Homo sapiens: one gene and its partners. The protein of the gene in region 1 interacts with the protein of each later gene in a pairwise test. Each region holds a gene or a part of one and is shown in the gene's direction. Other genes may lie near its edges.

Region 1 (3,336 bases):
AGGATTGCTTCAGCCTTTTAATGGGGTCAGCCTGGAACAAGAACAGTAGTACTGGGAATGATGGAAAGTTGTATTGGGGTAAAGCTCAAAGCTGCTTATTAGAAGGAATCCATTATGACAGCTATGTAGGTTTTTTTTTTTCACTTTCCTTTTCTTCCTTCCCCCCCCTCCCCGCCGCCCTTCTTTTTTTTTTCTAGACCCTGAAAATTGTTCGGACAGCAGAACTTTCGCCTTTCATTGTGTTCATTGCACCTACTGACCAGGGCACTCAGGTGAGGAGAGGTTGTGCGCGATGGGTAGTTCACTTTCTCCGGGCCTGCCCATACTGGGACCTCAGTCCAGGTCATTGGCCAGAGTGCTGGCTGGAGGTCACAGCTCCAGCTGGGCTTCTTCCTCCAGGGCCAAGAAGCCAAAGGGTATGCACATTCGTTCCAGCTCTTAAGCCACTAGCTAGGCCAGTGCCCATGCTACCTAACAGGGACAAAACAAACCAGACCCAGTCATCGTCCTGGAGGCACACAGTTCCAGGGGCAGAGATGGACAGTTGAGCAGATCCTGATACTGGTGGGATGCAGGCTCTGGCAGGGGAAGCTGTGATGGACAGAGGTGGCACTGAACCCGCCCTGGGGTGCAGTATGGCTGTGGGGAAAGACAGAGAGGCCAGGAATATATCAAAAAGCCTACCCTGCTCCTCTGCCCAGCCCTACCCATGCACTTTGCTGCACTGTGCTTTTGCATTGAACAATGGACACCTTTCCCTATCAGGGTGTGAGGAACTCTTTTTCTCTATAGCTGCTTGGTCTTCTGCTGCATGCATGTGTAATACTGCAGTCAATAGCCCTGTGCATATAGCACATGTGTGCAAATATATCTGTAGGAAAAACTCCAAGTAGGATCACTGGGTCCAAGAGCACACACACTTAGAATTTGGACAGGGACCGCCAACCACCTGTGAGACTGCTTGTTTCTCTTTGCCTGCAGCATGTTGTCAAAATTTTCTTTTTTTGCCAGTCTACTGGAGGGAAAAATAGTATCTCATATTTCTTTTTTACTAAAAGAGATGATCAGGTACTTTTTCATATGAAGAGCAATTTGTATTGCCTTTTCTGAGAATTATCTGGTCATACCCTTAGCTCATTTTTCTGCTGAGTTATTGACCTTTGATTTATAGGAAGTCTATATTAGGGTAATTAGCCCTTTGTAATATCAGCTGCAATTTTTTTCCAATTTGGCATGTCTTTTTGCTATGCAGACATTTTTACTTTTATGTAGTTACATGATTTGTCTTTCATGGCTGCTTGGTTTTAGGTCAAAGACAGAGTCCTGAGATATATATACACACACATTTTTAAATTTTGTTTTTTGTAGAAATGGGGTCTCACTGTGTTGCCAGGCTGGTCTTGAACTCCTGTGCTCAAGCAATCATCCTGCCTTGGCCTTCCAAAGTGCTGGGATTACAGGTGTGATCTGGGATTAGAAGTCACCTTTATCTGACTGGGTGCAGTGGCTCACACCTGTAATCCCAGCACTTTGAGAGGCCGAGGCGGGCGGATCACCTGAGGTCTAAAGTTCCAGACCAGCCTGGCCAACATGGCAAAACCCTGTCTCTACTAAAAATACAAAAATTAGCCAGATGTGGTGGCGCATGCCTGTAATCCCAGCTACTCGGGAGGCTGAGACACGAGAATTGCTTGAACCCGGGAGGCGGAGGTTGCAGTGAGCCGAGATTGTGCCACTGCACTCCAGCCTGGGCCACAGAGCAAGACACTGTCTCAAAACAAAACAAAACAACAAAATCACCTTTATCTTCGTTTTAGGATTGCAGCTCTGGTGGTTGTTGAAATGGCTCTTCCATGTTCAAAGGGCATTAAGTGGGAGATGCTGGTGAAGTCCATGCTGTCTCTGCATAGCTATTGGTCCTCCAGAGGACTCTGATTAGTCAGGGTTAGCTTGAGATCCTCTGAGAATTGCCATGGTCTTTTGAGATTGCCTCTTCATGCCCTACATTAACATTCTTTCACAATGTCTTCTGAATTTGACTCGTCAAGTATGATGCACAGCTGAGCAACGCTAACAATTGCTGTTTAAAATCTGTCACTGGCCTCTCTGGGCTGGGGGTGGTGCAGCTTGCTTCATCTGTGGCTTTCTTCTTTGCAGACAGAAGCCCTGCAGCAGCTGCAGAAGGACTCTGAGGCCATCCGCAGCCAGTACGCTCACTACTTTGACCTCTCACTGGTCAATAATGGTGTTGATGAAACCCTTAAGAAATTACAAGAAGCCTTCGACCAAGCGTGCAGTTCTCCACAGTGGGTGCCTGTCTCCTGGGTTTACTAAGCTTGTAGAATGGGGGAACCCACTGTATGCCCCTCTCCAGCATTTGGAATTCCACCCGCCTTGCTTTAAGACAAACAGGGCTGCTCCAACTAGTTTTGTGTCAGCTTCCAGCTCTCTGCAGCTATCCTAATTCAGCCAGTAAGGTTCAGTCTTCTTGCTCAGGCTCCTGAAGGGTTGATTCTCCTGATAGATGGGGCCCCACTGATCTGGATTTGAAAAGGATTTCTAGAAATTGGGGGTAAGAAGTACTACCAAAATGTAACTGCTAATCAAGGGTGATGCACAGCAAAAGCAATGGACCCCATCCCTCTAAAGCCTGCCCTCCTTTGCCTTCAACTGTATATGCTGGGTATTTCATTTGTCTTTTTATTTTGGAGAAAGCGTTTTTAACTGCAACTTTCTATAATGCCAAAATGACACATCTGTGCAATAGAATGATGTCTGCTCTAGGGAAACCTTCAAAAGCAATAAAAATGCTGTGTTGAAATGCCAATGACCTTGTAACTCTGGGTTTCCACACAAAAAGAAATGTGGCCCATTTCACTTAAGCTCCTGGACAACAGCATTAACACAAGATGCCTCTCTTGTGTTCAGATGATAAACACTGGTGCCCTGGAAGAGTCCCCATTCTCTGCCCCCACTGCAGGGCTCTACTGGCTAGTGCCCATGTAGAAAAACACCCTTAAGGTTGTTGTAGCTAGTGGAGCGCTCATTGTGGGCACATATTTAGAACGAGAGAAAATCCAAGCCTGGGGTCCCGTGGTACAGTGGAGGCCGGTCGCTGAGCCAGGGCTGGGGCCCACCCTGCATGCCTGGCTCATGATATGGCTACAGCTCAGGGCCTCGCCTCGCTGCATCCAAGAGCGCTTTTTTTTTTTTTTTTTTTTTTTTTTTTTTGAGACAGTCTGTTTTGCCAGGCTGGAGTGCAGTGGCAGGATCTCGGCTCACTGCAACCTCCACCTCCCAGGTTCCAGGGGATTCTCCTGCCTCAGCCTCCCGAGT
Region 2 (7,034 bases), about 85 Mb from region 1:
ATTTCAAACTATATTACAAAGCCATAGTAATCAAAACACTATGGTACTGACATAAAAACAGACACAGAAACCAATGAAATAAGATAGATAGCCCAGAAATAATCCCATGCATTTATAGTCAACTAATCTTTGAAATGGGTCCCAAGAATACACAATGGGAAAAGGATAGTTTCTTCAATAAATGGTGTTGAACTAGACATCCTCATGCAAAATAATGAAACTAGACTCTTACCTTATGACATACACAAACATTAACTCAAAATGGATTAAAGACTTAAATGTAAGACCTGAAATCACTAAACTCCTAAAAGAAAATATAGGGAAAAAGCTCCTTGACATTGGCCTTGACAATGATTTTTTGGATATGACAACAAAAGCACAGGCAACAAAAGCAAAAATAAACAAGCAGGAGTACCTCAAACTAAAAATCTTCTGCCTAGCCAAGGAAACAATCAACAAAATGAAAAGGCAACCCACAGAATGGAAGAAAATATTTGCAAACCATATCTCTTATAAGGGGTTAATCTCTAAAATATATAAAGAACTCATACCACTCAATAGAAAAAAATAAAATAACATAAACTTTTTAATAGGCAAAGGACTTGAATAGACATTTTTCCAAAGAAAACATACAAATAGCCAAAGGGTATATGAAAAGGGGCTCAACATTATTAGTCATCAGGGAGCTGCAAATCAAAACCACAGTGAGATATCACCTTACACCTGTTAGGATAGCTATTATCAAAAAGACAAATGGTAAGTTTTGGTGAGGATATAGATAAAAGGGAATCTTTGTACACTGTTGGTAGGTATGTAAATTGTTACAACCAGTATGGAAAATAGTGGGGAGTTTCCAACAGTAATGAAATTAGTGTCTTGAAGAAATATCTGCACCCCCATGTTCACTGCAGTATTATTAGTAATAGCCAAGACGTGGGATCGACCTAAGTGTCCACTGGCAGATGAATGAATAAAGAAAGTGTCACACACACACACACACACACACGAATATTATTCAGCCATAAAAAGGAGATCCTGCCATTTGCAATAACATGGATGAACCAGGAGGATACTATGCTAAGTGAAATAAGCTAGACACAGAAAGAAAAATACCATATGATCTCATTAGAGCTGGATGTGGTGTCACATGTTTGTAATCCTAGCTACTCAGGAGGCTGAGGTGGGAGCATCACTTCAGCTCAGGAATTTGAGACCAGCTTGGGCAGCACAGAGAGAACCTGTCTCTAAATATATATATTTGTAAATAAATGTAAATTAAATTCATAGAAGCAGAGAATAGAATGGTGGCTGCCAGGAGCTGGGGCAGAGGGAAAATAAGGAAAAATTTGTCAAAGGGCACAAAATTTCAGTTACAAAAAGAATAATTTCTGGGAATCTAAAGTATAGCAGCATTAATAATACTGTATTATATGCTTGAAATTTGCTGAGTGGATCTTAAGTATCCTCACCTCTAGCCACAAACACACACAAAGGGTAACTATGTATGGTGGTGAATGTATTGATTAATTTGATTGTTGTAATCATCACACAATGTATACCTGTCTCAAATCATCACATTGTGCACATTGAATATACACCATTTTTATTTGTAAATTATACCTCCATAAAACTGGTAAAAATGAACTTGAAGTGTATTGTAGATCTAAATGTAAAAAAAGAAAACTGTAAAATGTTTAGTAGAAAACACAGGGGAGGTCAGGGGCAGTGGCTCACACCTGTAATCCCAGCACTTTGGGAGGCTAAGGCAGGAGGACCACTTGAGACCTGGAGTTTGAAACTAGCCAGGGCAACATAGCAAGACCCTGTCTCTACAAAAAAATACAAAATAAATTGGCTGGGTGTGGTGGCATGCTCCTGTAGTCCCAGCCACTCTGGAGGCTGAAGTGGGGGGATCGCTTGAGCCCAGGAAGCGGAGGTTGCAGTGAGTTGAGCCGAGATCACGCCATGGAACGCCAGTCTGGGTGACAGAACCAGATCCTGTCTCAAAAAAAAAAAAAAAAGAAAGAAAAAAGAAAAAAAAAGAAAAAAGAAAGAAAGAAAAGAAAAGAAAATATAGGGGAAAAATCTTCATGACATGAGGTTAGACAAAGAGTTCTTTCAGTTTGACACCAAAAGCACAATCTATAAAAGAAAAAAAATTAATAAGTTGGGCTTCATCAATATTAAAAGCTTTTGCTGTAAAAAGGACCCTGTTAACAAGAATGAAAAGATAGACACAGATTAGGAGAAAATGTTTGCAAATCACATATCAGACAAAAAAACTTATATCCAAAATGCATAAAGAACTACCGAAAGTCAACAGTAAGAAAACAACCCAATTGAAAAATGGGCAAAAGATTTGAATGGACACTTCACCAAAGAGGATATACAGAAAGCAGACAAGCACATGAAAAGCTGTTACGCATCACTAGCTATTGGAGAAATGCAAGTTAAAATTATGATGAGCTACCAATGCGCATATATTAGTTTTTTTTTCTTCTTTTTTTTTCTTTTCTTTTCCCCCAGTGCACATATATTAGAATGGCTTGGCCATCTTCACTACAAACTAAATTAGGAGCCTACCTATGTGAACTTCCTCTTTGATAACCCTCTCCAAGACGCCTCACTTGAACGTGACAAGAGAAATTGGAACCATCTTCTGGTGTCAAGGCCATAATACCTAAGGGAGTGTCACACATACATAAATGCTTGTTCTTCATCATTCCTTCTTCAGATACCCTTGCTTTATGTCACGGAACTCTTTTTACATGAGACTTAGCTCTTCCACATTTGGCTTCTATTTCTCCTATATCTTTAAATTCCACTTTTGTTACCGTGCACGACACTGATGACACTCGGGCTGGGTCTGGAAGCCTTGCTCTGAAAAAAACGTTCCTCGTCTCCTGCCGGGTCATATCTGCAGTTCCAATAGGTTCCACAAGGGGGATGGTGTTACCCAGGTAAGGGCTCTTAGACCGCCTTTAGGACTGGTGGATGAATGAATCAGATAAAAGGCACACAACTAATCCGTCTATGCTTTTAAAATAACATCACATTTAAATAACACTATACATGCTGACTAAATAGTAATTATCAAGTTTACTACTGAAAAGAGAAAACATTTGCTTATTTCGTTTTCAATTGGTCTACAGATATTTGTTGAACACCTACTGTGTGCCAAGCTCTCTTCTAAATACTGGGGAAACAAACAAAATTTATTTGAAACAAAATATAAAAGAAATGATACACTTAGGCTAACTTTAATTAGTGATTATTCTTATTTAACTTTATCTGAATTTCCTTCTGAAGCTTAACTGGCAAATTTACTCTCCTCTTTGATGAAGGGCATAGATAGCAAGGCTTTTTCTCCATGGCAGGCTTCCCATAAAACTCCTCCCACCACGCTTTCCTGTCTAATTTGAATGCTTACAACAACTATCTCGACCAGTGCTTATGAGGGCAATTCAGCCTATTACAAAGGTTTCTTCTACTCCATAACATGACTTTTTAAAGCACTGTCCACTCAGCCTTTTTCCTGCTATTTTCATTTATGTCCAAAATGCAAGAGACAAAGAACTGGTAGGTAACTCCCGAGTTTCTTCTTCCCTGAAACTTTTATCTGCTATGACATGGTACCTGGTCAAAGAAGTCATTCCCTTAGCTAAGTCTTTTTTTATTCACCATATGTATACTTAGCCCCTCTTTCTCATGAATGCAGATTTTTTAAATGGAATTCATTCGCACTGCTGTAACATGTATCGTGTTTGCAGTTACAGCCTGCTATGGCCATTTGCTAACACAGACTTCCCCTTCTGAACCTTTGTGATACTTTTGAATGGAACAAAATGAACACAGTAAAGTGTTTTTTGTTGTTGTTGTTTTGTTTTTTGTTTTTTTGGTTTTTTAGAGATACTGTCTTGCTTTGTTGCCCAGGCTGGTCTCAAACTCCTAGGTTCAAGCTGTCCTCTCACTTTGGCCTCCCAAATTGCTAAGATTATAGGAGTGAGCCACCGCACCTGGCCTAGTAGGGCAGTTTTGTTGTTGTTGTTGTTGTTTGTTTTGTTTTGTTTTGTTTTTTCAAGACGGAGTCTTGCTCTGTTGCCCAGGCTGGAGTGCAATGGCACGATCTCAGCTCACTGCAACCTCCACCTCCTGGGTTCAAGCGATTCTCCTGCCTCCACCTCCCGAGTAGCACTCCAATCATGTGCCACCATGCCCGGCTAATTTTTTGTATCTTTAGTAGAGATGGGGTTTCACCGTGTTAGCCAGGATGGTCTCGATCTCCTGACCTCGTGATCTGCCTGCCTCGGCCTCCCAAAGTGGAGTGGTTTTTAATCCGTGTTTACTTTTCAGCATCAAACAGCCTGTACACTGCGGGTAACCTCCCTGCTGGAATATGCAGACTTATCAGTTCAGCACAGGAAAGAGGGTCAAGCTTTTAGAAAGAATTTCCAGAGGTCCCAGAATGGGGATTCAGCTACCAGCCCAATGTGCTCTTCTTCCCATTCACCAAGCCGTGCTGTCCTTTGACCTCAACTTCATGGTTCTGCTCTTTCTTCAATTGAGAGTTTGGCCATCAAGGAGACCCAGATCCAGGGGCTTCAGAGGCCTGCCTAGACCACAGCAGAGACAAATGGAGGGCGAGGGGTTGGGGAAGAGGGGAGAAGGAGAGAAGAGTCCCACATCAGCCTAGCCCTGCTCCTGTAGTGTAGAGCAGAGGCCGGGGTTATGAGAAGTATACTAAAACTTGAAGGGAACTGAAAGGCTTGAACCCTTTGTGTCTCCCCAGGAGCTATTCCCATTCTCCTTATACCCTACTTTCTGTTATTCAGTAAGTTCTGGCCCTTGGCTGTGCTCTCCTTAGCCTGGCTCACCTATGATTGGAACACCCACAGTCAAGGTAAGAGACAGGGGCACAATGGTGGTCCTGTTTGGGCCAAGAATGGAAGGACAGGGAGAGGGAGGTGGAGGGAGAGGGGGAGAACCAAGGGTAGGGGAGAGGGGAAGGAAGGGGAGGGAGAAGGGAGAGCAAAGCTCAGCAGGGACAGAGGTCTCTACCAGGTAGCTCAGGAAGAATTATGAGGTTGAGGTCTCTGGGCAGGTGCCCCCAGCTTCAGACTATTTTCCTGTCACCTTTCTGGTCGGCTCTAGAGGAGCAGGGGCTTCCTATGTCTTGGGGATTGGATTCAGGGACAGTACTTACAGTTCTGAGGTGTCAGAAGGAGGCCCCTCACGTGACCTGAGGACTGCAGGCAGAACTCTCCTCCTCTGGGAGAGGTAGAGGGACTGCAATGCCCTGTGTACTCTTCCCTTCCCTTCTGTACCCACAGGTGGCAGGCGTTCAGCTTGGGTACGAAACTGGACCCTATGGAAGTATTTCCGAAATTACTTCCCAGTAAAGGTGACCACTCTTCCTCGGGGTGCCCTCAGTCCCTGTTGCCCAGACCCTTGCTCCCTACTCAGCTCCATGTTTTCAGAGGCTTTGGTGGTCAGCAGCGAAGGTCAAGGCCCCGAGTCATAATGCAAAGCAAGGGCCCAAGATGGATGGGCAGGTGGGGAAACAGGTGGATGGCAGCCTTTCCTTCACTGGCAAACCCAGGTCAGCCTCTCTGACCATCGTGAGCCCTGGCAATCCTATGACAATGATGACAACCTAGTGAACAGGGATTTGGGGCTCCCAGAGGGAAACATAGGCTACCTGCTGGGATTTTAGTCCACACGTGGTTTCTTCCTTCTTTGTAGCCAATGCTCTGACTCAATTTCCCTCTAACAGCTGGTGAAGACTCATGATCTTTCTCCCAAACACAACTACATCATTGCCAATCACCCCCATGGCATTCTCTCTTTTGGTGTCTTCATCAACTTTGCCACTGAGGCCACTGGCATTGCTCGGATTTTCCCATCCATCACTCCCTTTGTAGGGACCTTAGAAAGGATATTTTGGATCCCAATTGTGCGAGAATATGTGATGTCAATGGGTGAGTATAAGAAATAATTAATTCTATTTTTTTACCTACTTCAAAGGTGCAACCCCAATAAGTCCTGACAATCACTACCTGCTTGAAGAGTACATGATAGAAAATAAGTCCAGGACACCCTGGGCCCGTAACAGGAGTATGTGGCTAAGCATTAGTTTCTGTCCAAGATCTAGGGAGCAGGGTTTGATTGGGCAGCAGGGGAAATTATAGGCATTCATAGGAGTCACCAGGACTTTTTTCAGAGGGAGAACCAGAAGGCTGGAATTCAGGACCAATGCCAAAGTGCAAATCGAGGATGAAAGCCAAGAATTAAACACAAATCCAGGGAAAAGCAGGTGTGAATGGGATAGCTCAGGCGAACTTCACCAGGCTCTCTCTAGGATGTCAGCTGGCCTCTTTGGGCCGGTCATTTGTACACCATGGTGTCTTAAAAACATTTTGAAGTCTATCATACTAGCTAAAACCCTCCTGGTCCATGACTTTTATCTCCCTGGAACCCCTTCACACTTGCATAAAATACTAAGGGATAAAGGATAGGAGTTCATCAGAGTATCCAGAACAACTTCCCCATGCTCAGCTTCAAGTCAGGGCACTGTGACAAATGTCTCTCTCTCTGGACAAATAGTCATCCTTCTGGACACCAGAAAACAACTGAAGCCAAACATCCAAAGGTAAGATACATTTCTGTGGAGGGGCCAGGTGGGACCACTAGAGTCCCAGAGGATGCTTCTACTCTGCTCTGAGGTTAGCATGGCCCTGGAGCAGGAATACTTCTCAATGGCTAGAGTCTGGAGGCAATTTCTGCCATCACAGTAGACAATAGAAGGTGAGCGCAGGGCAAAGATGGGAGACAGAAGTGAGAAAGGCTAGATGATTGTTGTTAAACAACAGGGTGTCATTCACATTCCATTATTCATCTACGTTTCAGTTTGGCTTGGTCAGGCTCAGGGGTCTGCCTACTCTCCAGAAACCCCAGCCATTGGCTTCCCTTTGGCAGGTTACTCTTAGGGAGGAAGCAGGTTGGTGGTGGCTAGTCTCGATTACCCCTGGAGGAGA
Region 3 (6,971 bases), on another chromosome or scaffold:
GCGGAGGCTGCAGTGAGCCAAGATCGTGCCACTGCACTCCAGCCTGGGCGACAGAGCAAGTCTCTGTCTCAAACAAACAAATAAACAAAAAAACTACTTTTCTTCTTTTCATTCCTAGCAAAAATCCCCTCTCTGGACAAATACTACTCAAGGTCAGAATCTCCCTTTGCCCCCAGTTTTTCATTGAGGAGGCTGAGGATCTGAGTCTCTCTCTTTTTTTTTTTTTTGAGATCCAATCCAGTCTCACTCTGTTGCCCAGGCAGGAGTGCAATGGCATGATCTTGGCTCACCACGAGTCTCTTTCTTAATAACCAACCCCATTACCGGGTCAGGAGAAGCTGCTGCGCTGTGGCTGCATCAGGGCCTAGAGCCGGGCTGCCTGCCTCTGCTGCCCTGTGTGCTGGCGGATAAGGTAGGGAGGTTTGTTATGCCTCAGTTTCCTTAAAGGTAAAATGGGGTGTCAGTCGTCTCTACCTTGTGGCCTGGTTTTGGTTAATGAACTAATCTACACACATAACAAGGGCTCAACAAAGGTTAGCGATGACGTTTCCTGCCAATCTGAGCACCTGCACACTGGAACCCTGTAAACAGTTGAGGGTGGGTGGCTGACTTCCAGTTCCCTTCAAATGCTTCTCTGAGTGTCTGCGCACCTGCGGCTCTCCAGGGGCTCGACTCAGGTCTCAGTGATCACAGATTCTAATGAAGAAAGGGTCTGTCTCTGTCATCCAGGCTGGAGTGCAGGGGGCACGTTCATGGCTCACTGCAGCCTCGACTCCCACCTAAGCCTCCTGAGTAGCTGAGACTACAGGTGTGCTGGACCACACCCAGCTAATTTTAATTTTGTTGCCCAGGCTGGTCTGTCAGTGAAGTTTTACACCAGTGAGACAAACATAATATTTGGGGCTCATCTAAAAGCTCAAAGTGAGGCTGAAGGAGCCATCCAATGTTTAAATGAAGAGGTACATCATAATTCATTTTTAATAAGTATGCAGAGCTGGGTGGCTCATGCCTCTAATCCTGGCATTTTGGGAGGCCAAGGTGAGAGGATCGTTGAAGCCAGGAGTCTGAGAGTGGCCTGGGTAACAGAATGAGACCCCATCTTTACTAAATAAATAATAAATAAATAAATAGCTGGGCGTGGTGGTGCATGCTTATAGCCCTAGCTATTTGAGAGGCTGAGGTGGGAGGATCCCTTCAGGGATCCTGCAGTGAGCTATGATCATACCACTGCACTCCTAGCCTGGGTGACGGGGGGACACCCTTTTTCTAATAGTAATAATAAATTATAAAATATATAAATTATAAAATGTGTGCTTATGATAAATCTAAACATTACTACCTAACATACATAGAAATTTTATTGTAATAAAATTTCTTTACCCTTGCCCATTCACTATCATATCTTCACAGAGCCTTCTGGACTTGTATCTGCCTATGTTGTTTTCTGTTTTTTTTTTTTTTTTATTTGTTTGTTTGTTTTGAGACAGAGTCTCGCTCTGTCGCCCAGGCCAGAGTGCAATGGCTAGATCTCAGCTCACTGCAACCTCTGCCTCCCGGGTTCAAGCAATTCTTCTGTCTCAGCCTTCTGAGTAACTAGGATTACAAGAGAGCACCAGCACGCCCAGCTAATTTTTGTATCTTGTTTTAGCAGAGGTGGAGTTTCACCATGGCTGGTCTGGAACCCCCGACCTCAAGTGATCCACCCGCCTTGGCCTCCCAAAGTGCTGGGATTACAGGTGTGAGCCACTGCATCTGGTCTTTTTTTTTTTTTTTTTTTTTGAGATAGAGTCTCACTGTGTCACCTAGGCTGGAGTGCAGTGGCACAATCTTGACTCACTGCAACCTCTGCCTCCCAGGTTCAAGCAGTTCTCTGCCTTAGCCTCCCGAGTAGCTGGGATTACAGGCGCCTGCACCACGCCAGGCTAATTTTTTTTTTGTATTTTTAGTAGATACGGGGTTTCACCATCTTGGCCAGTCTAGTCTTGAACTCCTGACCTCGTGATCCACCAGCCTCAGCCTCCCAAAGTGCTGGGATTACAGACAGGTGTGAGCCACCGTGCCTGGCCATTTTTTGTTTGTTTGTTTGTTTTAAATAAAGCACATCATTGTATATTCACTGCTCTGCACTATTTTTATTTTTTAATTTAACAGATCTTGGAGACTATATCCTATCTGTGTACACAGAATTATCACATCACAACTTTAGAAAATGTTTTAAATTAAAAATGCTAAATGAATGTTCTAGAGTTTATTTAACCAAGTGTCTGGTTGTTCTCAGGCTTCCTGTGATTATAGGTATAGCTGTAAGTCAGCACATCCCTGTATCCACACATCCCGTGGTGCCTGTGAGAATTTATCTGTGGCACAGATTACCCAAAATGACATGAGGGGTGAGAGGTTTTACAAATGGTGAATTCCACGAGCTTTGCAAATCTTAACTCCTTTTTCAAGAATAAGGGAACTGTGAGTAGGACAGGTGCACGGTACTTTCATTTTATTTTAGTCTAAGTATTTTCTGAAATAATTTGAGGAGGCTTAAAGGGAGGTGCAAGCTGGGTGCGGGGGCTCATACTTGTAATCCCAGCACTTTGAGAGGAGGAGGTGGGAGAATACTTGAGCTCAGGAGTTCGAGATCAGCCTGGGCAACACCGTGAGGCCCCATTTCTACAAAAAAAATTTTTTTTAAATTAGCCAGACATGGTGGTGTGTGCCTGTGGTCCCAGCTACTTGGGAGGCTGAGGTGGGAGGATCACTTGAGCCCTGGAGTTCAAGGCTTCAGCGAGCTATGATTGTACCACTGCACTCCAGGGTGGGCGACAGAGCAAGACCCTGTCTCAATAATAATAAAAATAAAAAAAAAAAAAAGGAAAAAAAGGGGCACAGTAGACAGTACCAGTACTTGGTATTTTAAATGGTTTTCAAATGAAGCCCACCCAAGCTCAGCAAGTCCAGCCGGGGCCTGAGGACCTGAGCAGGCGCCAGGTCACACAAGGTACCGGGCGCAGGAGGCGGAGCCCGCAGCGGGCCCTGCCCTGACAGCGGCACCTGCGCGGCCTCCGCAGGTTCTGGGATCGGCCGCTGGCCAGGTGCAAGGGAGGGGGGACGGCAGCCGCTGTCCTGGGGCTGAGAGGGCTCCGCGGTCTGGAGGGGACGGCGTCAGCGCCCGCGGGGGTTCGCAGGGCAGCCCCGGGGCGACCCCCACCCCCGCCACGGTCAAGTGTCGATACAGTGTTGCCAGCCGGGTGCCAACTATGAATAAGTCCAAGGGCGCGGCACGTGGGCCGAAACGCGATCCTTCCGCGGAGCCGCTGCGCGCAGGGCCGTCCCCACCGAGCCCGCCGCGCGGCGACCCCTGACGGCGACCCTAAGCCCCGGCCGACCAGGGCAGGAGCTCGCGCGCGAAACTTCCCCGGCGCCCGCAGGAGACCCCGGCAGGGGAGATGGCGGGGCCCAGGCAGAGCTCGGAGGCCCCTCCCGGCCCCACCCCGCGCCCCGGCCCCCTCTGCCCCCGACCCGGTCCGGGGGAGCCCTCGCGGGACCCCAGCCTGGTCCTTCGCCGCCTCCCCCCGTTCAGCCCCGACCCCCCTGATCCCCGCGCCCCCCGCGGTCCCGGCCCGCCCCCTCCCCCAGCCCGGGCCCCAGCCCCGTCCGTTAGCGGATCCCACGCAGGCTCCGCGCCCGGCCCCGCCGGCGCCCTCGGCCCACACCTCTCTCCGCGCGCGTGTCCCGCCGTGTCGCCCCCGTGTCCCCTCCGCGTCCCCCCCCGCGCCGTCCCCCCGCGTCCCCCCCCGCGTCCTTCCCCCGTGTCCCCCCAGCGTGTCCCTCGGCCGCCCCGCGCGCGCCGGCGGAACTGTGGGATCGCCGCGCACAGGAAGTGGCGGCGGCGGCGCGGCCGAGGGCGGAGGGCGGAGGGCGGCGGGATGGGGGCCGGGGGCGGCGGGCGCCGCACTCGCTGAGGCCCCGACGCAGGGCCGGGCCGGGCCCAGGGCCGAGGAGCGCGGCGGCCAGAGCGGGGCCGCGGAGGCGACGCCGGGGACGCCCGCGCGACGAGCAGGTGGCGGCGGCTGCAGGTGAGCACCGAGGCCCCCACCCGAGGTCGGGCCGCCCCCCTCTTCCCCCACGCCCCGCCGCCGCCCGAGGTCGCCCTCCCGCCGCCGGAGGTCGCCCCTGCCCCAGCCGTCCGACCTCGGGCCGCCCGGGGCCCCGCGCCGCAATGGGCCGGCCGCGCTCCGCGGGGCGCGGGGCCTGGGAAGGCGCGGGGCCGGGAGGAGGTCTGGGCCCGGGTCCTGTGCGCCCCCCGCAACCCCGGCCTCCCCGGCGGCCTGGTCCAGCGCGAGGCCCCGGCCGCTTCCCGCAGCAGCCTCGGTGGCGCTGGGCCCAGCGGGGAGGCCCGGGGGTTCGGGGCGCCCGGGAGGGGCCCGGGCCGGGCCGAGGGAGGGCGAGTGGGTTCCCGCGGGGACGTCCCATCCCTCCGTCCTGGACTCTGCTCCGGGCCCCGCTCGGCTCCCCCGTGGACAGGACGCGCCCGCCGCCTGGTTTCGGGGCGCGGCGGACCCGGGACCCCCCCCAGGGGCCTCCTCCTCGCGCGCCCAGGCCAAGGGAGCAGTTTCACTTTTGCCGCTCCGCGCGGGGAGGGCTGCGGGGCCCGGGGTTGGCTGTGGGTTCGGCCCGGAGACCGGCGGCGCGTTTGCACCGGGCGGGTCAGGGGATGGGGTCAGTCCGGGGGCAAGAGCCGTGGGGGCGAAAACCCACTCCTGGCCACCCCAGGACCCTTGGAACATTGGTCCCAAGTACTTAGGAAAGGAGGGTTATTAGTATTTGAAGGCAGTTAAAAATGGTGCAGTGTTTTTTTTTTTTTTTTTAACTTTGAGAGAAGTTTAGTGACATGGGGAAAATGCTTTTATAAATGGCTTCCCAGACCTTTAAAAAAAAAAAAGCACAATTTTAAAAGCTTTGTCTAGGAGAATACTTGAGCAGTTGGGTTCTTTTTCCTGGGAAACATGATCTTAGTAGAAGAAAGATGTGGGCTGTTGGCCTCCAGACAGAGGGTGATGAGCATGCGGCTCTTATTAAAAATGAAAGCCAACGCCGAGAGCCTGCTGGGGGCTGGGAGGTGGGGCGGGCGGCGGGCCCAGGCTGCTAGAGGGACCCAGGATCCTGCAGCTTTTAAATTGCAGGCGCGGCTGCTCCGACTCGACTCGCTTAGGAATTGCTGAACTTCGTCTTCTCAGTTTGAAAGCTTCAGAGGGGTCTCCCGAGGATGCTGAGCACTCTCTTGATTTGGCCACTTCTTTGCCGCCCCCCCTCCCTCTTTCCAACCAATCCTCCTCCCCCACAGAGTTCGGCGTTAGCCTGTGCCTGTTACAACTCGCTTCTTGTATCCATTTCTGGTTAGTCTTAAGTATCTTCTTGAGGACATTGTCTAAAAAGCAGCTGCATGCCATTGACATTCAGACAGAACAGGGCCCCTTGGCCTTAGAAGGTGTAGGGGCCTTAAATATTCTGAAGGTGACTTCATGGAGTGGCCGCCCTCTGTGGTCACCCTACCTGTGCGTGGCCCTGTCCTGGCGTATCTGCCAGGGGGACGCGCTGCAGCAGCCTGAAGACTGCTGGGTTAAAGGCAGTGTGGCCGGGTGGGAAAGTCCCCAGGAGTGTGGATTCTAGAACAGGCCTTCCTGGAGGGAGGGTGCTGCCCCGCCCCAGGCTGGGGCCCCAGTGCAGACTCCACGCTGGGGAGCTACACCCTGCGCCTGGACGCGCGTCTGTGTGCCAGGACTGGGGAAGCAAACTGAAAGTAATGGCTTTATTTTGGAAATTAGAAAAAGAGCATTCACCAAAGTAATCTGTTCCGTCCCTGCCGTAGACACGTGACTGATACACCTGCCTCCCATCCCCTCCGCACTTTGACCTCGTAAACAAGTGATCTGACACAACAGGGCTTGAGTTACTTGCCCGAGGTTGTGTCACGGAACGGCAGGGCCGCCTTTAGGCTTACATCCCTGGAACTCCCACCTCCACAGACCCGTCCGGGTGCTGAAAGTCCACGGATGCTATCCCTGGTCAAATCAGAGGTAGGTGGGAAATGTTGGAATTCTCCTAAACAGGGAAGGGGAAGATCAGAATGTGTGTTTGAGAAGAGCCTGATTTCCTGGATTCCTTTGGAGGAGGGGTGTCCTTAACTTGCCCAATCACATTTACCCTGTTCATCAATCTTCAGCCCCGCTTAGGCTCTCACATTGCAGACCCCACGGCAGAGCCCCTAGTGCTTGGCACTGAAGAGCCAGTGCAGGCCCGTTGTCACCATCAAAACCCACCTCTGGTAAATTCAATGGCTTCTGCTTCCACGCTTTGCCCCCCCTCTCTGGCCTTGTCAAAAACTCTTGTGATGTCCCTGTTATAAGGTATCGCCGGTGGACTGGTGTTTCTAGATCGCAGCGTGGGACGTGATTGGCTACATTTGACTGTTTCCTTTTTAATGACTTGTTTAATGTGAGATCTTTAGCTGCTCCATCTCATTGCAAGATTTTTGTTACAGTAAAGTTGGACTGAGTTTTCTAAAGACAGTTGCTCAGAAATTTCATGGGAATTTACTTTTGGTTAACCGAAGAGTGTTTGGGGTTTTAAACGGGTCGTTTCAAGTGGTAAAGTAACATGACCACGAGGCGTCTGTCCTTCCTAAAACCACTTCATCATAATTTCAAGATTGATTCTAAATTACCAATTTCAAAGCGCTGCATTTTAGGCAAGTGCATTAATCGTTCACCTTCTGACAGGCTTTCATGTAGTCATTTACAAGCGGCCATGTTTTGATTATCTTTGTCAAGCAAAGTGCAGGAGACAGGCAGTCTCATAACCTTGGGGCAGTGTCTGTGTTTAGTTTTGGAGGCGGGAAGGCCGAGTTGATGGTGAAAGTTGGCCATTCTTTCTGCAGGGCCAAAGTCTGTACCTGGCTATTAGGGTGCATGGATGCT
Region 4 (7,823 bases), on another chromosome or scaffold:
TCAACAGCTTTTCCCATGCATTCATGTGTTAGACAATTTTCTTTTCATTTTCTCAGAAAAATGGGAGCAAATCTATGCAATAATATCACATGTATAGATCTGTGCAAACACAACCACAATTGTAACACTTACATTTATTTTGGCCAGGGCACAGTAGCTCATACCTGTACTCCCAGCAACTTGGGAGGCGAAGGTGAGAAGATTGCTTGAGCCCAGGAAATTGACATTGCTGTGAGCTAGGATTTTACCACTGCCCTCCAGCCTAGGAAACGGAGCAAGACTCCATCTCTTAAAAAATACATATTTATTTTATTATTTTATTTTTATTTTATTTAATTAACTATTTTTTTTTGAGACAGGGTTTCCCTCTTTTTGCCCAGGTTAGAGTGCAGCGGTGGAATTAGAGGTGTAAGCCACTGCACTGGGCCAAAATATTATTTTAAAAAGAAAATTCTGGGGCTGGGCGCGGTGGCTCACGCCTGTAGTCCCAGCACTTTGGGAGGCCGAGGTGGGTGGATCACGAGGTCGGGAGATCGAGACCATCCTGGCTAACATGGTGAAACCCTGTCCCTACTAAAAATACAAAAAAATTAGCCAGGCGTTGGTGGTGGGTGCCTGCAGTCCCAGCTACTCGGGAGGCTGAGGCAGGAGAATGGCATGAACCCAGGAGGCGGAGCTTGCAGTGAGCCAAGATCGAGCCACTGCACTCCAGCCTGGGCGACAGAGCAAGACTCCATCTCAAAAAAAAAAAAAAAAAAAAAAAAAAAAAAAAGAAAGAAAGAAAGAAAAGAAAAGAAAAAGAAAAAGAAAACTTTGGCCAGGCAGGGTGGTCCACGCCTGTAATCCCAGCTACTCAGAAGGCTCAGGCAAGAGAATCGTTTGAACCTGGGAGGTGGAGGTTGCAGTGAGCCGAGATCATGCCATTGCACTCCAGCCTGGGGGACAGAGCAAACGCCATCTCAAAAAAAAAAAGAAAAAAAAAGGAAACTTTGTAACCCTACCGTGAATGGAAAGTAGATTTGGCTTACCATGAATACAAGCTTATCAAAAAATAAATACAATGTAAACAAATCATGTTACTAAATTCTAACAGAATATTGTTGCCTAATGAAGGGCTTTTCTTTTCTTTTTTGTCAAAGTCATTAAGTGTTAAGAGACATAGAACATATTAGCACTGACTGAGCCTCTCTTCTCCAAATATTGGAAATTGAAAAAGTTGATTACTTTCAGACACCACAGTGATTTTTTTTTTTTTTTTGAGAGGGAGTCTCACCCTGTCGCCCAGGCTGGAGTGCAGTGGTGCAATCTCGGCTCACTGCAACCTCCGTTTTCTGGGTTCAAGCTATTCTCCTGCCTCAGTCTCCTGAGTAGCTGAGATTACAGGCGCGTGCCACCACACCAGGCTAATTTTTGTATTTTTAGTAGAGACGGGGTTTCACCATTTTGGCCAGGCTAGTCTTGAACTCCTGACCTCAAGTGCTCCACCTGCCTCAGCCTCCCAGAGTGCTGGGATTACAGGGGTGAGCCACCATGCCCGGCCAGTTCAGTGATTTGGAATGCAGGGCAACATAGCACCACAATTTATCTTTCTTTTTCTTTTTTTTTTTTTTTTTTGAGTCGGGGTCTCGATCTGTCGCCCGGGCTGAAGTGCAGTGGCGTGATCTCGGCTCACTACTACCTCCACCTCCCAGGTTCAAGCGATTTTCCTGCCTCAGCCTCCCAAGTAGCTGGGACTACAGGCGCCCGCCACCATGCCTGGCTAGGTTTTTATATTTTTAGTAGAGACGGGGTTTCACCATGTTAACCAGGATGGTCTTGATCTCCTGACCTCGTGATCCGCCTGCCTTGGCTTCCTAAAGTGCTGGGATTACAGGCATGAGCCACCGTGCCCAGCCCACAATTTATCTTTTTATGGAAACATCGTGTCAGCTCACTAACTCTTCACAACAGGCTTGAGAGGGCAGTACCATTATCATTTTCACCACCTTACAGGTGAGGAAACTGAGGCATCATAGAGGTGGTGTTCCTTGCCTGTCTCTATCACTTCCTAACTGTGTGACCTATGGTAAGTTCCTTAACTTCTCTGGGCTTTAGTTTCCTTGCTAGTGATTACTAGCAGGAGATAGGATCGCATGAGCTCAGGAGATCAAGCAAGGCTGCATTGAACTATGATTGCGCCACTGCACTCCAGCTTGGGCAACAGAGCAAGACCCTGTCTCAAAAGAGAAAAAGAGGCCAGGCACAGTGGCTCAAGCCTGTAATCCCAGCACTTTGGGAAGCCGAGACAGGTGGATCACCAGAAGTCACGAGTTCGAGACTAGCCTGGCCAACATGGTGAAACCCCGTCTCTACTAAAAATACAAAAATTAGCCGGGCATGCTGGCGGGTGCCTGTAAATCCAGCTACTTGGGAGGCTGAGGCAGGGGAATCGCTGGAACCTGGGAGGCAGAGGTTGCAGTGAGCTGAGATCATGCCATTGCACTCCAGCCTGGGTGACAAGAGTGAAACTCTATTTCAAAAAAAAAAAGAAAAGAAAAAGAAAAAAAAGAAAAAGAAAAGGGATAACAATAGTTCCTGGCGCTTAGGATTTTTTCTTTTTTTTTTAGACAGAGTCTTTCTCTGTCACCCAGGCTGGAGTGCAGTGGTGCAATTTTGGCTCGCTGCAAGCTCCGTCTCCTGGGTTCATGCCATTCTCCTGCCTCAGCCTCCTGAGTAGCTGGGACTATGGGCACCCACCATCACGCCCAGCTACCTTTTTTGTATTTTTAGTAGAAATGGGGTTTCACTGTGTTAGCCAGGATGGTCTCAATCTCCTGACCTTGTGATCCTCCCGCCTTGGTCTCCCAAAGCACTAGGATTACAGGCGTGAGCCACAGCACCCGGGGTAGGATTGTTAAGAACATTAAATGAAGGCCGGGCACAGTGGCTCACGCCTGTAATCCCAGCACTTTGGGAAGTCGAGACGGGCAGATCACAAGGTCAGGAGTTTGAGGCCAGCCTGGTCAATATGGTGAAACCCCGTCTCTACTAAAAATACAAAAATTAGCTGGGCATGGTGGCAGGTGCCTGTAGTCCCAGTTACTCAGGAGGCTGAGGCAGGAGAATTGCTTGAACTAGGGAGGTGGAGGTTGCAGTGAGCCAAGATCATGCCACTGCACTCCAGCCTGGGAGACAGAGTGAGGCTCCATCTCAAAAAAAAAAAAAAAAAAGAACGTTAAATGAGATAATACTGAAAATCAAGCACTTAAAAAAAGAAAAATTATATAATATATAATATTAATTATTATATTAAATTATATTAATCACATTAAAATAATATACTAAAATATTTAAAATATTATATAACAATAGTATTTTTAATATAATAATTTTATATTTTAATATAATATTGCTATTATATAATAAATAATTATATTATTATTGTTATGCACACTTGCTAACCGCTTGCTAAGGCCAGGCTCTTTTATTATAATAATAATAATTATTATTATTCCCACAAAGTTGACTTAAAGTTCAAGGTCAGCTTCAGTAAGAAAACCCTGTAATCCCAGCACTTTGGGACAGAGCAAGACTCCATCTCAAAAAAAAAAAGAAAACCCATTACCATCCATCAAGTGCCTACTCTAGCATAGGCAGTGGGCTAAGCCTTTGTACATGCTTTATCTCTGTCTTCCTTTGTTACAGTTGGCTCTGTCACCATCGTCTCCATATGACAGGTGAGCAAACAGAGGATCAGAGAGGTAAATTCACTTGCCCAAGGTCACACAGCTTAAAGTAGAGGAACTCAGGCCAGGTGAGGTGGCTCATGCGTATAATCCCGGCACCTTGGGAGGCCAAGGTGGGCAGATCACCTGAGGTCAGGAGTTCGAGACCAGCTTGACCAACATGGTGAAATCCTATCTCTACTAAAATACAAAAAAAATTAGCTGGGCATGGTGGCAGGTGCCAGTCATCCCAGCTACTTGGGAGGCTGAGGTAGGAGAATCGCTTGAACCCAGGAGGTGGAGGTTGCAGTGAGCTGACATTGCGCCACTACACTCCAGCCTGGGTGACAGAGCCAGACTGCATCTCAATTTTAAAAAAAAAGGCCGGGCACGGTGGCTCACGCACACCTATAATCCCAGCACTTTGGGAGGCCAAGGCAGGTGGATCACGAGGTCAGGAGATCGAGACCATCCTGGCTAACACAGTGAAACTCCATCTCTATTAAAAATACAAAAAATTAGCCGGTCGTGGCGGTGGGCGCCTGTAGTCCCAGCTACTCGGGAGGCTGAGGCGGGAGAATGGCGTGAACACGGGAGGCAGAGCTTGCAGTGAGCTGAGATCATGCCACTGCACTCCAGCCTGGGCAACAGAGCGACTCTGTCTCCAAAAAAAAAAACAATTAGCTAGGCATGGTGGCAGCATGTGCCTGTGGTCCTGGCTACTTCAGAGGCTGAGGCAGGAGTATTGCTTGAGCCTGGGAGTTTGAGGCTGCGGTGAGCTATGATGATGCCACTGTACCCCAGCCTGAGCAACAGAGCAAGGCCCTGACTCTAATAAATAAATACATACATACATAAAAGATAAAAACAGTTCCCTCCACTGCCCCCACCCCGATTCCTATTCCTGGGTAATCTGGATGGGAGGCCTCTTCCCTGCCTACTTCTGCCCCCTGCCCTGCCTGGACAGTGCCAGTCCCACGGCTTATGCTCAGGGCTGCTGTCACTGCACAGCCAGGCTGCCCTGGTGCAACTGGGGAGCGGCCCAGCAGGTTTTTCCTCCCAGTCTGCCTGCCGCGGGGCACCGGGCTGTCCTCTCCCCGCCTCATCAGGGCCCAGCCTTCCCAAGCTCGCCTTCTCTCTGCCGGGCGCAGCCGGCTGGTGGTGGCCACTGAGACAAGATGCCTAGCATCTTCGCCTATCAGAGCTCCGAGGTGGACTGGTGTGAGAGCAACTTCCAGTACTCGGAGCTGGTGGCCGAGTTCTACAACACGGTGAGTGCGTGGGTGTGTGAAGGAGTCTCGCCAGATGCCGGTTCGAATCCCGGTTCCTCCCCATACAGCCTTACTGGGGAATCTTGCTGGAGTGGTTCACCTGTCTCAGCCCTAGTTTTCTCATCTGTTAGCCAAAGAGTGCCAGCTTTCATTCATTTACTTGTCTTTACTTGATGCCAAGCTCTGTGGTAGGTTTTGGAGACACATTGGTGGCCAGGAAAAGAACCGGTCTCTGCCTTCCCTAAGCTAACTCTGATGTGACTGCAGGCATTTGCAACCGGGAGCGATGGTGCCTTCTTGGAGGGCACAGAGGCAGCTGTGGTAGGGGGAGGCAGAGGGTGCCCCTGAGCTAGAGGGGGTGGGCCAATCAGGAAAGGCTTCCTGGAAGAGGTGATTGTGTCTGTCTTGTTTGCAGCTGTACCCACTGACCAACTTGTCCCAGTGTGCCTGGGACTATCCTGGTTTCAGTATTTAAAAAGTTTCACCTCTTGGCTGGGCGCGGTGGCTCACGTCTGTAATCCTAGCACTTTGGAAGGCCAAGGTGGGTGGATTGCCTGAGCTCAGGAGTTGGAGATCGCCCTGGGCAACGTGGTGAAAGCCCATCTCTACTAAAATAAAAAATTAGCTGGGTACGGTGTCAGGCATCTGTAGTCCAAGCTACTCAGGAGGCTACGGCATGAGAATCGCTTGAACCCAGGAGGCGGAGGTTGCAGTGAGCTGAGATTGTGCCACTGCACTCCAGCCTGGGTGAAAAAGCGAGACTGTCTCAAAAAAAGAAGAAAAAAAGTCCCACCTCCTGAGAAACTCCTCAGTTCTGGACATTCTGAGGTGGTCTTCTCTTTCCCTGTTAAAACACCACATGGGAAGTGCTAAAAAATCATGGATGTACCTAGCACCATGGCTCATGCCTGTAACCCCAGCAATTTGGAACGCAGAGGCAGGAAGATCGCTTGAGCCCAGGAGTTCCAGACCAGCCTGGGCAACATAGCAAGACCCTGTCTCTACAAAAAGTTTTTAAAAATTAGCTGGGTGTGGTGGTGTGTGCTTGTAGTTCCAGCTACTTGGGAGGCTGAGGGGGGAGGATTTCTTGAACCCAAGAAGTGGAGGATGCAGTGAGCTGAGGTCATACCACTGCACTCCAGCCTGGGTGACAGAGGGAGACCCTGTCTCAAAAAAAAAAAAAAAAAAAAAAGGCCGGGCGCGGAGGCTCACGCCTGTAATCACAGCACTTTGCGAGGCCAAGGTGAGTGGATCACCTGAGGTCAGGAGTTCGAGACCAGCCTGGCCAACATGGTGAAACCCCATCTCTACTAAAAATACAAAAATTAGCCAGGTTTGGTGGCAGGCACCTGTAATCCCAGCTGCTTGGGAGGCTGAGGCAAGAGAATGGCTTGAACCCAGGAGGCGGAGGTTTCAATGAGCCGAGATCGCACCATTGCACTCCAGCCTGAGGGACAAGAGCGAGACTTCGTCTCAAAAAAAAAAAAAAAAATAGGAATGCACAAATGATCACGGCATTTAGCCAAAGCTTAAAGCCAAAGATCAGTGCAGCTATGCCATGCCCATACTGGGTGCTGGGAACACAGAGGTGTTTGCCTGGAGCCCTGGGAATGATGGGATCCAGGCATAGTGCTTAGTTCTTTTGTTTGTTTGTTTGTTTGTTTTGAAACGGAGTCTCGCTTTGTCACCTAGGCTGGAATGTAATGGCGCGATCTCGGCTCACTGCAACCTCTGCCTCCCGCGTTCAAGCCATTCTGCTGCCTCAGCTTCCCGAGTAGTTGGGATAACAGGTTCCCACCACCACGCCTGGCTAATTTTTGTATTTTTAGTAGAGACAGGGTTTCACCATGTTGGCCAGGCTGGTCTTGAACTCCCGACCTCAGGTGATCCGCCCACCTCAGCCTCCCAAAGTGCTGGGATTACAGGCGTGAGCCACGGCGCCCGGCCTCGTAGTGCTTAGTTCTATGCCCTGCACATAGGCCTTGCTCAGTGAGCAGAAGAGTGCTTGCTGGCTGGGTGCTATGGCTCACGCCTGTAATCCCAGCACTTTGGGAGGCCGAGGGGGGTGGATCATGAGGTCAAGAGGTCAAGACCATCCTGGCCAACGTGGTGAAATGCCGTCTGTGCTAAAAATACAAAAAATTAGCCAGGCATGGTGCCGGGCGCCTGTAGTCCCAGCTACTCAGGAGGCTAAGGCAGGAGAATCACTTGAACCCGGGAGGCAGAGGTTGCAGTGAGCCAAGATTGTGTCACTGCACTCCAGCCTGGTGACAGAGCGAGACCTCATCTCAAAAAAAAAAAAAAAGTGCTTGCTGTGTACCAGGCATGACCCTAAACATTTTACGTGAAACACCTCCTTTAATCTGCACAGTGACATGGGGAGTTAGATGCAATCTATATGATACAGACTTCATCCCATTTTCCAGGTGATAAAACAGGTGTTCAAGGAGTTTGAAGGCTGTGCCCAGGGTCACCCTGGTTATTAGAGCCAGGATTTAAACTTGGTGAGTCCAGGAGACTTTTCTGGGAGGAGAGTCCGAGGCTCAGGTTGCTCTGACCCTGTTGCCTTTCACCCCGGGGCTTCCCATACCTGGGAAGTGGGATTATGAGACTCCAGGATCCTCACGGTCTCACTGATTCTTGCTCTTCCTTAGCCAGAGATATGGTTCCCGGTCCTCAGTAGTCCCACCTCTAACATGGGAGGGAGCTGAATGATTGGTCCTACGAGGCTGAGATGATGGGTAAGGGCTCTAGAGCTCTTCTCTCTGGAATCCCCAGCAGCCACTGTGGTCCAGTGTTCTGTTTTCATCCTGCACCCAGATGAGAGCCCTTGCAGAAGGCACTGAGA

The links.
Region 2: the proteins of MPP1 (region 1) and DGAT2L6 interact in binary tests that used the Homo sapiens proteins (3 or more experiments, as listed by UniProt).
Region 3: the proteins of MPP1 (region 1) and AGPAT3 interact in binary tests that used the Homo sapiens proteins (3 or more experiments, as listed by UniProt).
Region 4: the proteins of MPP1 (region 1) and ACER1 interact in binary tests that used the Homo sapiens proteins (3 or more experiments, as listed by UniProt).

The regions. Positions count from the first base shown.
Region 1 is NC_000023.11:154,778,175-154,781,510, reverse strand, and holds the end of MPP1 (55 kDa erythrocyte membrane protein), read left to right. Parts: intron 1-197; coding exon 198-272; intron 273-2,157; coding exon 2,158-2,334; 3' UTR 2,335-2,827; downstream 2,828-3,336. UniProt on the Homo sapiens protein: Essential regulator of neutrophil polarity. Regulates neutrophil polarization by regulating AKT1 phosphorylation through a mechanism that is independent of PIK3CG activity.
Region 2 is NC_000023.11:70,194,482-70,201,515, forward strand, and holds part of DGAT2L6 (diacylglycerol O-acyltransferase 2-like protein 6), read left to right. Parts: intron 1-4,789; coding exon 4,790-4,900; intron 4,901-5,330; coding exon 5,331-5,401; intron 5,402-5,773; coding exon 5,774-5,978; intron 5,979-7,034. UniProt on the Homo sapiens protein: Diglyceride acyltransferase that uses fatty acyl-CoA as substrate. Particularly active with oleate as a substrate. Has no wax synthase activity to produce wax esters.
Region 3 is NC_000021.9:43,861,276-43,868,246, forward strand, and holds the start of AGPAT3 (1-acyl-sn-glycerol-3-phosphate acyltransferase gamma), read left to right. Parts: upstream 1-3,947; 5' UTR 3,948-4,070; exon of another isoform or gene 4,071-5,390; intron 5,391-5,863; exon of another isoform or gene 5,864-6,047; coding exon of another isoform or gene 6,048-6,071; intron 6,072-6,971. UniProt on the Homo sapiens protein: Converts 1-acyl-sn-glycerol-3-phosphate (lysophosphatidic acid or LPA) into 1,2-diacyl-sn-glycerol-3-phosphate (phosphatidic acid or PA) by incorporating an acyl moiety at the sn-2 position of the glycerol backbone.
Region 4 is NC_000019.10:6,330,611-6,338,433, reverse strand, and holds the start of ACER1 (alkaline ceramidase 1), read left to right. Parts: upstream 1-4,821; 5' UTR 4,822-4,882; coding exon 4,883-4,975; intron 4,976-7,823. UniProt on the Homo sapiens protein: Endoplasmic reticulum ceramidase that catalyzes the hydrolysis of ceramides into sphingosine and free fatty acids at alkaline pH.